2 linked regions of the Homo sapiens genome follow. The protein of the gene in region 2 purifies or fractionates together with the protein of the main gene of each other region. This does not show direct contact. Each region holds a gene or a part of one and is shown on either strand. Other genes may lie near its edges. The genes, in order: TAF5L and LSM11.

The links.
Region 1: the proteins of LSM11 (region 2) and TAF5L fractionate together in Homo sapiens (co-fractionation; one large-scale study listed by BioGRID). This does not show direct contact.

The regions. Positions count from the first base shown.
Region 1 is NC_000001.11:229,616,060-229,619,886, reverse strand, and holds part of TAF5L (TAF5-like RNA polymerase II p300/CBP-associated factor-associated factor 65 kDa subunit 5L), read left to right. Parts: intron 1-3,827. UniProt on the Homo sapiens protein: Functions as a component of the PCAF complex. The PCAF complex is capable of efficiently acetylating histones in a nucleosomal context. The PCAF complex could be considered as the human version of the yeast SAGA complex.
Region 2 is NC_000005.10:157,746,693-157,750,519, reverse strand, and holds part of LSM11 (U7 snRNA-associated Sm-like protein LSm11), read right to left. Parts: intron 1-3,827. UniProt on the Homo sapiens protein: Component of the U7 snRNP complex that is involved in the histone 3'-end pre-mRNA processing. Increases U7 snRNA levels but not histone 3'-end pre-mRNA processing activity, when overexpressed. Required for cell cycle progression from G1 to S phases.

The sequences.
Region 1 (3,827 bases), on a different chromosome or scaffold from region 2:
TGAAGCCGGGAATGTGAAGAAGCAGTGGCAGACAGTAATGGGAGGGCAGAGCCACAAGAGAGGCTTGCAGTGGGAGGGACCAAGAGAGTTTCAAGTAGGAGGTGAGTTCAGCAGCATCACATCCAGCTGAGAGATCGTGAAGGGTGGTGCTGGAAAGTGACTGGTTAGATCAAAAAGTTAAGGAATCCCAAGTCTCAGTAGCCCACTGAGGTCAGAAGCAGGGTCAGCTGGCTGGGTGAGGAGACTGGTGAAGGTTTAGAATAGCGTAGGTGGAAGGCTGTAGGGTAAGTAGTTGATGAAACAAGACTTCTGGAACATCATGGAGGTCCCAGCTGATGTTGGAGAAAATCTACTTCTCATGACATCTGTTTGCTGGATTTCGTGATTTCCACCTACTTTCTACCACTGCTGCCATCCCCACCAAAACGCCACATTCTTCACTGCGTCCTGAGCCCAGCTACGGCCTTATCCATGTGCCATTTTATTTCTTAGGACACCATGGGAAAAAACACAGCTTCTAGTTCAAGTGTATTTATGTCAGTCTGAGCAAAGATTGAATATGAAAGGCTATCATAATTTTTAAATTATATGAGGTATGACTGAAACTGAAAGTAGTATGGCTCATTTATTTTTCAGTTGTGATTTATATTTTCACAAAGCTTATTGAATACACTTTATCATGATGATTAATGCAAAGCTAGGGCTTTAGGTCCTACTTAGACTGATCTTTTGATGTTACAACCATTTAGTTGCTGTGAGTGAAGAGAACTAATAACTTGAGTTACCTAGTAGACACTTTACAAAAAAATGCAAAAAAATAATTTTTTTCTTCTGTTATAAACATAAATTTGCCATTGGAAAAAAGATACAATTACTCAAAAGCCAACAGTCAGAAGTCTCAGTTGAAGAGCTGATTTGAGGATTGTGTAGTGAGTTTGCCTGAATTTATCTTGAACTCACCCCTACTCAAAACTGCCACCTTATTGGGGCAGGGGGAGGGATGGGGGAGCCAGGTAGTACTCTTTTGGCATTTCGTGGAACTGTGTAGTACTTTAACCTGTGATATGGTGGATGAGGGTGCCTCCCAGCCCTCCTCTACCGACCGTGTACATTAGAGCCTAACGGGGGTGGGGGTGGAGGGATAGGATGCAGCGTGTAACCACTGAAGGGATTGACCAGACTAGAGTTCCACACTGACAGCATCTTAAGAGGATGCCTGGGTTCCATGTATCTCCACCTCCCCATGTTTCTGTAGTTGAATGTTAAGTGTGGCTGTGGTTTTCCCTGCAGAGTTGTTACATTGAAATGATCATGTGGGATTTTATATAGCAACTTGGTTGAAGTATCTGGCAACTGTTGATACATGAGAATAGATATACATTGTGTCAAAATCCTCCAGAAATTTTTGATTTCCAGAAATACCAATCTGGCAACTGTTGATACATGAGAATAGATATACATTGTGTCAAAATCCTCCAGAAATTTTTGATTTCCAGAAATATCAATAATGTGATATGAAGAGCAGAGTATTTGACATCTGTTTTTACCTCTGAAAGTTAAGTATTTTATATAAATTGAAAATGATGAGAAATTCTGAAATGTTAACAAAGAGTATAATTATATTTAAATCCAATTTCAGTTTGAAAGATTTTATAATTATAGGAAAAGCTAGGCAGGTAACGAAACTGCACTGTTCGTCTCATGTATGAGTCTCTCCAGAGACTTAGGTCTAGTTTAAGGAGAGTTTTTTTTCTTCACTTGTCCCTTTTTGGATATTAGTACTCTGGAAATCAGTCTGGGTGGAGGGGACCGATTTATCTCAGGTTCATTAATTATCCATGTCACTTGAAATATATGTACATTGGAATAAAACCCAGCTGAGTTGATTGGGTCGTGTCTCTAGTATTTGAGTTTAGCGTGGTTATGCAAGAGAGTCATTGCCAGAATTCCTGCCCTTAAGATCCATGGCCATACAGTTGATTCACCACCCACCCTCAGGGAAGCGCCCTTATCATAAATGGTAGTTTGGACTCAGAGAAATTGCTATTTGGGGCAGCTAATTTAAGCATATTTGTTAGAATCAGTATTACAGACTAGTTTCTAGCAATCTTAAATATGGTCAGTGTTGACTATCATTCATTCTTACTCCGTTCTGTTTACTCTTTCCTAACTTCACATCTTTTCCCTTCCTCCTCAGACACATAGGTATATTGTCGCACCTTGAGGACACTGTGTCATTGCAGAGCCTGTTCTCCAGATCAGTCATTCACATGTCTTTCACATGCAGAGTTTTTTCCTGTCAGAGGTGATCTAAGAGATCGAGGCCCATCTGCCTGGAATGCTCACGGATGTGCATCAATATTTGCATGCATTCCCAAGTCAGCAAAAGATCGGCAGTGTGGAAGCCGGAAAGATTTCAGTCTCAGCTAGAGTAGGGAATTGGGCTGCTTTGGGAAAGCCCGCAGAGTAGGAGATCTTGAAGTTAGATGAAAAGCAGCTGTAGCAAGTGATAGGAAGAGGCACTGGTTGGATTGACTCGTCTTGACTTTGGGCCACACGGGAAAGGACAGTACTGTCACAGCCTCCGTGTGCATTTAACTTTTTTACTCTAAATATAACACAACCAGAATCTGCAGGGCTGAAATTATTTATATACATATCCACACACTCATGGGATTCTTATGTATAGCCAGGTTGGAGGATCACTGATAGAGCAGTGCTGATCAGTGGCCACAGAGAATGGGAGCAGGGACCCCACTCTCAGAGTATCAGAATCCCTGTATTAGCAATTTAAAAAAACAGCTTAATTAAAAAGTAACCTAAGTCATCAATACAGTGAGAGAATAATACACCATACCCAAGCAAGGTAAATTTCATAGTGAGAAGAGAGTTCAGTATTTGGAAATTTATTATTGTGTTTCATTATGTCACTGATTCACAACCATAGTGTTCCTTCTTTTTAACAATCACACACCTAGTACCCCTTCTTTGTAACAAATATTTTGAACTCTTTGGCAACCTAGAAATAAAATGCACAGATAATGTAATCTTTCTGGGCATATAGTTTAATATATATATAATGTCCTAACATTTTATATTTACATGTATATATACTTGTGAGTATGTCTCTAGCCTTCACAGTTTGCTCTGTTGTATGACTTGTAGGGAATTGAAAAGTAGGTCTTCAGAGTATATTTTTAAAGGGCTCCCACAAATCAGTTTAGAAGGAAATAATTACTTGCAAATGGTATTGGGACAGTGTGTTAGCTACAGTCACTGGGCAAAACATTTGTTTGGTTATTCACCACACATACACTAAAAGAAACTGCAGATGGACGAAAATTAGATACAAATAATTTTTTTATGTTTAAAGAAAAATAAGACCAGGCATGGTAGCTCATGCCTGTAATCCCAACAATTTGGGAGACTAAGGAAGGAGAATTGCTTAAGCCCAGGAGTTTGAGACCACCCTGGACAACATAGCAAAACCCCTTCTCTACTAAAAAAAAAAATATAAATAAATAAATAGACTTCCGGAAAAGGTGGAATTTTACATCTTAAAAAAGAATGGAAGAGCAGGCACGGTGGTTCGCACCTGTAATCCCAGCACTTTGAGAGGCCAAGGCAGGCAAGTCACTTGAGGTCAGGAGTTCGAGACCAGCCTGGCCAACATGGTGAAACCCCATCTCTACTAAAAATTTAATAATTAGCCAAGTGTGGTAGCGTGGGCCTGTAATCCCAGCTACTCGGGAGTCTAAGGCAGGGAATCACTTGAACCCAGGAGGTGGAGGCTGCAGTGAGCTGAGATCATGCCATTGCACTCCAGT
Region 2 (3,827 bases):
CTGGCCCAAGCCCTGACAGTGTAAAAGGCACCTGGCTGAGTATCTGGCTCCTATGACACTACTAATAAGCATCATGTGAAGAGAGCAGGATAATGACTCATAGGAAGAATATTGAGACTATAAATTTCAGCTTTTATTATGAAGGATTCTCAGAGCGTGGGAGGAAAGATGAATTTTATTTTTATTATTTCATGTTAACTCAGCTCTCACAATATGCTGGCTATGGTATATAAAACCTCCCAAAAGAAAGCCGTACACATTCTTTTTTCCTGAGACAGGGTCTCACTGTCACCCAGGCTGGAGTGCAGTGGCACAATCACAGCTCACTCCAGCCTTGACCTCCCTGGCTCAAGCGATCCCCCTAGCTCAACCCACTGAGTAGCTGGGACTACAGGCACGCACTACGCACCCCCAATCTCTCTCTCTTTCTCGTGCGTACACAGTCTCACTCTTTCCCAAGTTTGCAACGCAAAATTCTGTAGAAAGTTTATTTTTGGTCAGGTCTTAGAAGTCTGGATATATAGAGTATTTGGCATTGACAGTAGACAAATGAAAAATCTCTCCTGCTTTGTTTCTAGTGACATAAAGGAGAACAACAGTCCTGCACTTCAGTTTGGATAACTAAATTGGTTCCTCCTGAAGCCACCTTATCCCTCTGTCATGGATTGGCTTATAAATGATGGCTGTGATAAATTAATAAAAGATTCTTAGAAGAAAATGACTTAGCAGACTAGCAGGAGTTTATGTCAGATTAACGGTGTGAGAATAACTCGGAGTTGGAAGCGACACGAAGCAGTGACTTTGGAAAAGACCATGAGAATTCTGGTCTGACCATCATCATTTACCTCTCTTCTAGCAGTATTTTAAAGTCCTTTGTACATTTGCTAGCTAAGGGTGTGTATGGGTGTGTGGGTGTGTGTGTGTGTGTGTGCGCGCGTGCGCGCGCGTGTATATGTGTTATAGGCCATATTAAATCAAGCATTCAAGCATTGTAAACAATTTTCAGGTCATTATAACTAGTTGTGTGAACCTGATGAATAACTTTTTCTTTAAGTTCCAAATTTCCTCATTCATAAAATGAGGTTAAGATAGTTAACTTGTAGATTTATTTCAGGACTAAGTCCCAATAACTCAATTTCTTAGAAACTGATCACATGCTTGCATTATTTCTTTTCCTACACATACATATATACTGCCCCCTGCCCTATGATGTATGTTTATACAAAGAGTGGAAAGACTATTTTTTTCTAACTTGGAAAAAAACAGGGACATTACTTCTTTCCCACACCTCCAAAAATAGAAAGGGCAAGCAGGTATCTTAGCAACAGTCTCTTACTCTAATTAAATAGATGGCAAATTCAGGTCTTTCAATTGGTCTTTCTCAAACGTGTACCTTTAATTTTTTTCTTCCAAAGATTTAATAAGGTGTAATTCCAGGAAGCATTGCTCTCCTTGTATCCTTGTGTGATCAAAAGTACGACACTAGCACCACCTATCAGAGCAAACCGCCAAGGCAAAAATGAGCTCCCCATTCTGAATCAGAGTGCACATTCTCTTTCCAGCCGTCTCTGTGGCAAGCTCCAAATGGATATGAGTCAGGTTTCTATGACCAAATATGACAAAAAAGCATATGCCTTATCTTTGGAGAAAGTTACTCTTCCAATCCCCTTCTCTATTGCCACATCCTTCCAGATCCAGGTCATTTTCAGCTCCACTCTTCCTTCTCCTGCTACATGTAAATTATACCATCACAGCCTGATTTTAAAATAACTGTTCTCAATCATGCCCTTCTTTAAAGACCTAAAACTTGCCTCTTACAGTAACTCTTGTTTTCCTTAGAAAGAAATATTTAATAGGAATGTAGGAACAGAAGCCACGTCTGCGTCTCAGGTGGCGGCAAAACAAGATGGTGGATCCCCGTGCCATGACCCCCAGATGCAGGGCTTATATGCTACAGGGAAAGGGTGATTCAGAAGGGATGTGTAGGACAATTGAAGTAAGATAACGTCAAGGTTGTTCTCATGTAAGGACAGGAATTACAGTAAGTACATGCTCTTACACAAGAAACAACAGATAAATTGGAAATCTTAGAGGCCTTCCCAGAACTGGGTTTAATCAGAAGTCAACATGGTGGACTGGCATTCAAGATGGAGTTGCTTTAGCCTCCACAACTACCTATTCAAAGATTTAAGGACAAAACTGTATCTACATATATATCTCCAAATATACAAAGTTATTAGCTCATTAGGGCAAAGGCAGCTCCCCAGATTCCATAACCTATTAAGGGCCCAGAGAAATGAAACCACAAACTGTAACAGTCACCTTATGAGTCTGCAATGGAAAAATATTTTCTCTTTTCTCTGAAAATAGTTTTAGTTGCCATTCTATAGAAGGGTGCCATGACAGATTGAAAGTACAATGTTTGAATCAGTGACCCGGCAAAGGCACATCAGTGTCTTCCCTATTGTGATGCTATGTCAAACTGGCCTAAACACACACACACACACACACACACACACACACACAGCAGTGTGGTGCAGAAATCATCTGAGACTATTCCTTAGTTGCACTGGAGACAGCTGACTGGAAACAGCTGCAATGAGCTGAGAAAAGTGACAAGGCTGAATTTTAAGCTTGGCCTTTTCTGAAGCCTAAGTACCGCTGTTCTCGGTTTTATGTAAGTCATACTCATGCCCTTTTGGCAACCTCTGTGTAACAGAGATGCTGTTCAAATTTGAGAGTTCATTTTACTGCTGTACACAGGGCTCAGATGTTCTTGATTTTGCCTATTTTCTTGCTCTTTATTTGCAGGAAGTGAAGTCAAAGTTATCCAAAGAATATCACTTTATTAAAATGAAAACATCAAGACACCATATTGTGGGAAATTATTTCAGCAATCAAAGTAAACTACAACAACAGGACTCAAACAAATTTTCAATCATGGTATCACGTCAGAGGCCCAATAAATCAGGTTTGTTTTGAAATCCTTCTCAGCAGGATGTGTGCGAGTAAAAGGACTGTGTAGGCTCCCTGCAGGAAAACTGAATTTGGAACTGGAGACAAGCCATTCACCTAGACAATGGTCTAGGAGCCAAACCCTGCATGTCATATGCATTTTGGATTGACCACACACACTTGTTCACACCGGCACAGGCTGCACACCAACACACCTGTAGCTAAAACAAAGTAATGATAACACTTTTTCTTACAGCTTTATAATGTCAAGACGTGAGCTTGAACACACCAGTTCATTTCACAGTGACAGATATACCTAGAAAAAGCTTGCTTGAAGCACAATTATAAACCAGAACCACCGTGGGCTAGGTATGGTGCTGCGATACTAAGGAGAAATATAGACACTAGAATTATGTGGAAAAGAGGATAATGCTCTTTAGTCTTGTCTTACCATCTCTATAGGCATGTCAATATTAAAAAGGAGGAAAAGCAATTGCATTCCACTTGCAAGTACAGCTTGTGTGTGAGTTCTTTGTTGGTATCAGTGATGGCTTAGGCTTAATGATGACGAAAAACCTTTCCTCCTATGCTTTTTTTCTTCTTTAGTATTCCCAGTATTGCAACAGCCTCCTATACTTTTATTATTACTTTTTTTTGAGACCTCGTATCACCTCTGTAGAGGTCTCTATGATGTCCCTATGATCTCGGCTCACTGCAGCTTCCACTTACAGGGTTCAAGCGATTCTCGTGCCTCATCCTCCTGAACAGCTGGAACTAGAGGCAGATGCTGCCATGCCCAACTAATTTTTGTATTTTTAGTAGAGACAGGGTTTCACCACGTTGGCCAGGCTGGTCTTGAACTCCTGGCCTCA